Regions from separate parts of the Homo sapiens genome. Here region 2 is linked to region 1. Evidence: fine-mapped expression QTL. A gene starts in region 1. The other region holds a variant in brackets. All regions are shown on one strand. Distances are from middle to middle.

Region 1 (2,796 bases):
TGCTCTCCCAGCTGGTGACCAATGGCAGGTGCTGGTGAACAGCGTTGGATTCAGGAGCCCAGAGCTTCTGAAATTCTACATCTGTTGGAGTTGGTGCTGTCATCTGGCTCTGGGATCCAGAGCTCTTGGGACTCATGGGTTTCCTGGGAGGTGAGCTCTGGCAAACGTGGATGGTTGTTCTCCCTGGGTGAATCCATACTAGGGAGTTTGGGTAGAAGGCCTTGGGAAGCCCTGGTTTTGTTGGGTGAGGTGTCGGAAGGCAGAGCAGAACTCATGGATGGGACATGCGGGTTGTAGATTTCAGCTCAAACGAGTAAGAACATTCTTAAGGCCAGCACTAGCCAAAAAAAAAAAAAAAAAATTAATAAAAGGAAGAACTCTCACTTAAGATACTGAGCTTCCTGTCCTTGGAGGTAACCAACCAGGAGCTGGAGGACTGCTTAGCAGGAATCTTGTGAATGGAGTCAAAGCCCCAGAGAAGGCACTGGACTGAGAGCCCCCATCTAACCCCATGTGTGCCCTGTTTCCATAGAGGAGCTTGCAGGACCCTGGAGCCTGGACCATGGATGGAATTCTCCAGTTGACCTTTTCCCTGTTAAGTGGAGTGGGACAGGGTGGGTTGGGTGCCTGGCTCTACAGATGGTAACTGGGCTTCAGCCTTACCAATTCCTGGGGGAGGCAGGGCACCCTCTCAGTGGAGGGTTGTTACCTCTCAGGCACCGCCAAATACAATTGGCCATCTCCTGCTCTCTTTTGGGGCTGGACTGTGGATCCCTGCTGCCCCTAAACAGAAGTCATAACCCATATCTCCCCGGACCACAAGGCCTGTCCACTAGAATCTCTGCATCCCGATTTAGGAAGTGGAAGGCGGGTACTGCTCACCACCAGGCCGCTGGGGTCCACAAAGCCTGCTCCAGCCTAGAACCCCAGGTGGATGTGCAAGTGTTTTACTTATCCCTTGAGGGTTAAAATCACGGGAATCCTTTCTCTTTTGAGGTTAGGTCAGACGCCATAAATGATCCAGAACCCCTGGAGCGGGGGCTGATGGAGGGGGTCCCTCTCTTGTCTCTGATCCCAGAGCGACTTTCCTCTTGACTTCGTGGGGGCCTCCCTTGGATCCCTGTCCTCCTTCCTCTCTCCGCTCCCTCTGTCCGTCTCTCCCGGAGCCGGAGCCGGGCTCTGGGTCTCTGGTCTCCTCTGAATTTCTCTCTCTCTCCCTCCACCTCGGCGTTCTGGCCCTAGGAGCGTCTCTCTCCAGCGCTGTCTAATAGTCTGTGCGCCCCTCTCCCAGTCCAGGGCCCCGTCTCTGGCCCGCAGTGTCTCGGGCTGTCTCCGCGTCTCTGAGCCCCTGGGCTGCCGCCCCTCGCGCGCTGCGGTGGCCGCGCGGGCCGGAGCGGAGCGGGCTGGAGCGCGGCGGCCACGGCCCGGGGCGGGGGTGCGGGCCCGCGGGGGCGGCGTTGGGCGCCTTCCTTCGTCAGTCCCTCCCCGGCGGCGCGGGGGGTGGGGTGGGGGGGGGGCGCGGCCGCCGCTCGGCGCCTTTAAGGGAGCGGGAGGGAGCGGCGAGGCGGCGGCGGCTGCGGTGGCGGCAGCCGAGGCGAGCGGGGCGGGGGCGCGGGCGCGGCGCTCGGAGTCCGTTCGGGGCCGGAGGCGGTCGGGGCCGGGCCCGGGAAGCGCGAGGAGCGCGCGTAGCGCCGCCGGAGCCCGCCGCCCGGGACATGGCCAAGGCGGGCCGTGCAGGTGAGGGCGGGCGCGGGGAGGGCAGGGCCGGGGCCCGGGGGAGGGACTCGCGCGTCTAGAGGAGGGGCCGCCGGCCCAGGTGAACCCCTCGCGCAGGTGGGCGGAGGTCCCGGGAGGGCGTAGGGGGCGGTAGCGGGGCTGGACCTCCCGCGCGTGGAGAGGGGGCTCCGCGCGCCCCCCGTCCTTCCTGCGCCCCCGGTCACCTCGGGGGACACCGCGTCCCCTTCTCCACGGCCCCGCCGGAAAGGGCCAGGTCTGCGGCGCCCCGGGCCAGTCCCGCCGTTGGGAGCCCTCTGCACCCCGCGGAGGCCCCGGGCAGACCCGGGCTTCGCCACCGAAGGGGATGTCCCGCGGCCGCCGCTTCGTCCCACACCCCAACGCAAACCGGGACGCGCCCCCTGCTCCTGCAGCTCTCTCCATCCAGGACGCCACAACCCCCCGCCCCAGCCCCCGTCACCAGCTCAGTCCAGAGACCCAGATTCCTTCTCGGGAAGGAGGGGAGCCCCGTGCCGCGCCGGCTGCTGGCCGCCCCGCCCCCTCCCCCATCGACCCTGGGACGCAAAGCCTCAGCTGCGGAGGCCTCTTCTGGGGTCCCGTGGGCTCTGCCCTCCCCCAGGCTCAGACGGTGTAGCCTGTGGTTTGAGGGAGCGGGCATTAGTCATTCGTTCATTCATCCAGCCCGACGTTCATTCACTAGCATCTGCTCTGTGCCAGACCCTGAGCTGGGCACCGGGGCTCAGGCGGACTCAGCCCCCCTGCTGCGCCCATGCTGGGGAGACCCAGGCCCGTGACTCATCGGGCACATTCTGGGCCCGATGGTGCCTTGGGAGGCGGGTGGAGGACAGCTGTGCCCACAGGGCCGGCCATACAGTAGGCGGCAGCAAGCCTGGTCTCGGCAGTGCCTCTTGTGAGGCTGGCGTGTGAGAATCTACCATGAACTCACACCCAACCCGTGACGTTGGCTGGTGCCATGCCGTCCCCCAGGACCGGGCGCGACAGTGAAGGAATGGGTGTGAATACCATCGGGCTGTGTGTCAATCCACCCCCAAGCCCGAAAGC
Region 2 (2,796 bases), 91 kb after region 1:
AAACATATTTATTGAGATAAAATCCACATATTCTATAATTTACCCATTTAGATAGTACAATTCAGTGGATTTTAGTATATTCACAGATGTGTGCAACCATTACCATGGTCAGTTTTAGAGCTTTTTCATAACCTCCAAAAAGAAGCTCTGTACCCTTTAGCTGACACTCCCTCACTTGCCCCAGGCAATCAGTAATCGACTTTCTGTGCCTGCAGATTTGCCTATTCTGGACATTTCATTTCGATGAAATGATGTAATATGTGACCATTTGTGTCTGGCTTCTTGCACTTAGCGCACTGTCTTCAAGGTTCATCCAACTGGTCGCTGTGTCAGAAATTCCTTTCTGAGGCTGAATAATATTCCGTTGTATGGAGATGCTACGTTTTGCTTATCCATTCACTACCTGATGGACATTTTTTGGGTTGTTTTCACCTGTTTTTTTTTTTTGGTTTTTTTTTTTTGTTTTGAGACGGAGTCTTGTTCTGTCGCCCAGGCTGGAGTGCAGTGGTGCAATCTCAACTCACTGTAACCTCCCCTCCCTGGTTCAAGTGATTCTTCTACCTCAGCCTCCCAAGTAGCTGGGATTACAGGTGTTCACCACCATGCCCGGCTAATTATTTTATTTTATTTTATTTTTTGTATTTTTAGTAGAGATGGAGTTTCGCCATGTTGGCCAGGCTGGTGTTTTCACCTTTCGGCTACTATGAATAATGCTGCTATGAACGTCCATGTATAAGTTTTTGTGTTTTTCATTTCTCCTGTGTTTTCATTTCTCTCGGGTAGATGCCTAGAAGTGCAATTTCTGTATCAAATGTTAACTCTATGGTTAATCATATAGGGAACTGCCAGACTGTTTTCCACAGTGACTGTACCATTTCACATTCCCACTGCAATGTATGAGGATTCTGATTTCTCCGCATCTTCAGCAACCCCTGTTATTATCTGTCTGTTTGATTCTAGTCATCCCGGTGGGTGTGACGGGGTATTTCATTGTGGTTTTGATTGCATTTCTCTAATGACTCGGGATGCCGGATCTTTTCAGGTGCTTATATTCATGAACCAGCTGCTCCCTCTCCCCTGACAGTGCACCTGTAAGGGGGCCTGCGTTCCCTACTTGGCTGAGTGTCTCCAGGGCAGGGCCCACGACTAGTTTATCTCAGGGACCCCATGCAGATGAGGTGTCTGCAGATATTTGTTGGATTGAATTAAAATGCATGGGAATTGAAAGGAGGTTGAGAACCTGTCTTTGAGGAGTCCGAGGAGTGTTTCTTGGCGATGATGGCGCTGAGTCTAGTCATAGCGAATGGGCTGGAATGTGGGGGAAGAGGGCCAGGGCCAGGGATGGCACCTAGAGCCAGTGTGGGGGGCGGGACAGCGGTGTGAGCAAAGGCCTGGAGGCTGCTGCAGAGCCTGGCAGAAAGGACCAGAAGGTGTGGATGGGGAGCAGCAGGAGA[C/T]AGACTGAAGAGGTCGTTCAGGCAAGCCTTGGAAAGCTAAGCTCAGGTTCCGGACTCTACGCAGAGGGCAGTGGGGAGCCCGGGAGGGTGTTAGTAGAGCTGTGCTTTATAGAGACAGAGGATCTGTTGCAGGGACTGCCTTTGAGGAAGGAGCTCCATTAGGGAGCTGTTAGCAGCATCCAGGCGATGTGGCTGTGCGAGAGATGAAGATGTGGCCAGTGCGGTAAAGGAGTGGTCACTAGATGGAGAGACTGGGGTCTTGGAGGCCAGGCTGGGAGTGGGGGCTGGTCAGGGCCAACACAGGCTGCAGAATGAACTGAAACCAGTTCATTGATAAATGAAGAAAAATAGGGAGGTTGAGACAGTCACAGATAAAATGACGCAGCGTCCAGGATTGCTCCAGGATAATCCCGGTGGGGCTGGGGCCGAGGCTGGGGAATTGGGCAAGGGAAGAACGAAACCAGGATGGCCACGAGTTTGTTGCTAAGTGGTGGAGCAGGTGCTGGGAACACGAGGCTTTGTTACACTCTTCTCTCTCTCTATGCTTGTGCATTTGAAATTTTATCTTAAAAAAAAAGACAGATAGTAAATACTGTTGGATGTGAGCTGTGATGTAGAAGAAAGAACCAAAAGTGACCAGGCAGTTTCCAGCCCGGGGATCTGGAAGATAAGCACAGGCTGTGAGGCCAGTTGTCCCCTCAGGGCCGAGCAGAGTCAAAACAGAGAACGGGCCAGGCACGGTGGCTCATGCCTATAATCCCAGCACTTTGGGAGTCCGAGGTAGGCAGATCACCTGAGGTCGGGAGTTCGAGACCAGCCTGATCAACACGGAGAAACCCCATCTCTACTAAAAATATGACATTAGCCAGGTGTGGAGGCGCATGCCTGTAATCCCAGCTACGCAGGAGGCTGAGGCAGGAGAATTGCTTGAACCCGGGAGGTTGCGGTGAGCCGAGATTGCGCCATTGCACTCCAGCCTGGGCAACAAGAGCAAAACTCCTTCTCAAAAACAAAAAACAAAAAACAAAACAAACAAACAATCAATCAAACAAAAAACACGAAAGCAGAAAACGTACAATGGCAGGAAGCCCTGTGCACCTTGAAGACAGCGTTTGGGGGACTCACGGTCTGTTTTTCTCACACGTTCCCTGGGAACACATCTCTGAAACTCTAGCAGAAGTTAGTAGAGAGACATGATTCAGCAAGCTGATATGCCTCCAGCCAGTCTGAGGAACACTGCAATGATAAAGCAAGGTTGAGCCTCCCTTGCAAGGGCTGAGCCAGCTTCTTTCTGTCCTTCCAGAATGTCACGGCTAATCACCGGGCCAATGATGTGATTGCT

Evidence for each region. PIP is the estimated chance that this variant, and not a neighbour inherited with it, causes the effect.
Region 2: its variant is the best candidate, but not a certain one, in a credible set for the expression of PITPNM3 in nasal epithelium (TOPMed, PIP 0.66).

What each region holds. Positions count from the first base shown.
Region 1 is chr17:6,555,326-6,558,121 of GRCh38, reverse strand. It overlaps PITPNM3 (PITPNM family member 3), which reads left to right and starts at 1,567. Exons shown (of 20, transcript NM_031220.4): 1 at 1,567-1,737. The coding sequence starts at 1,716. RefSeq lists an enhancer at 2,656-2,796.
Region 2 is chr17:6,464,733-6,467,528 of GRCh38, reverse strand. It overlaps PITPNM3 (PITPNM family member 3), which reads left to right. Exons shown (of 20, transcript NM_031220.4): 15 at 2,758-2,796. Among named protein-coding and RNA genes, the nearest start is that of PIMREG, 22 kb to the right of the region's middle. RefSeq lists an enhancer at 2,731-2,796. The variant C/T (reference allele first, on the strand shown) is at 1,455.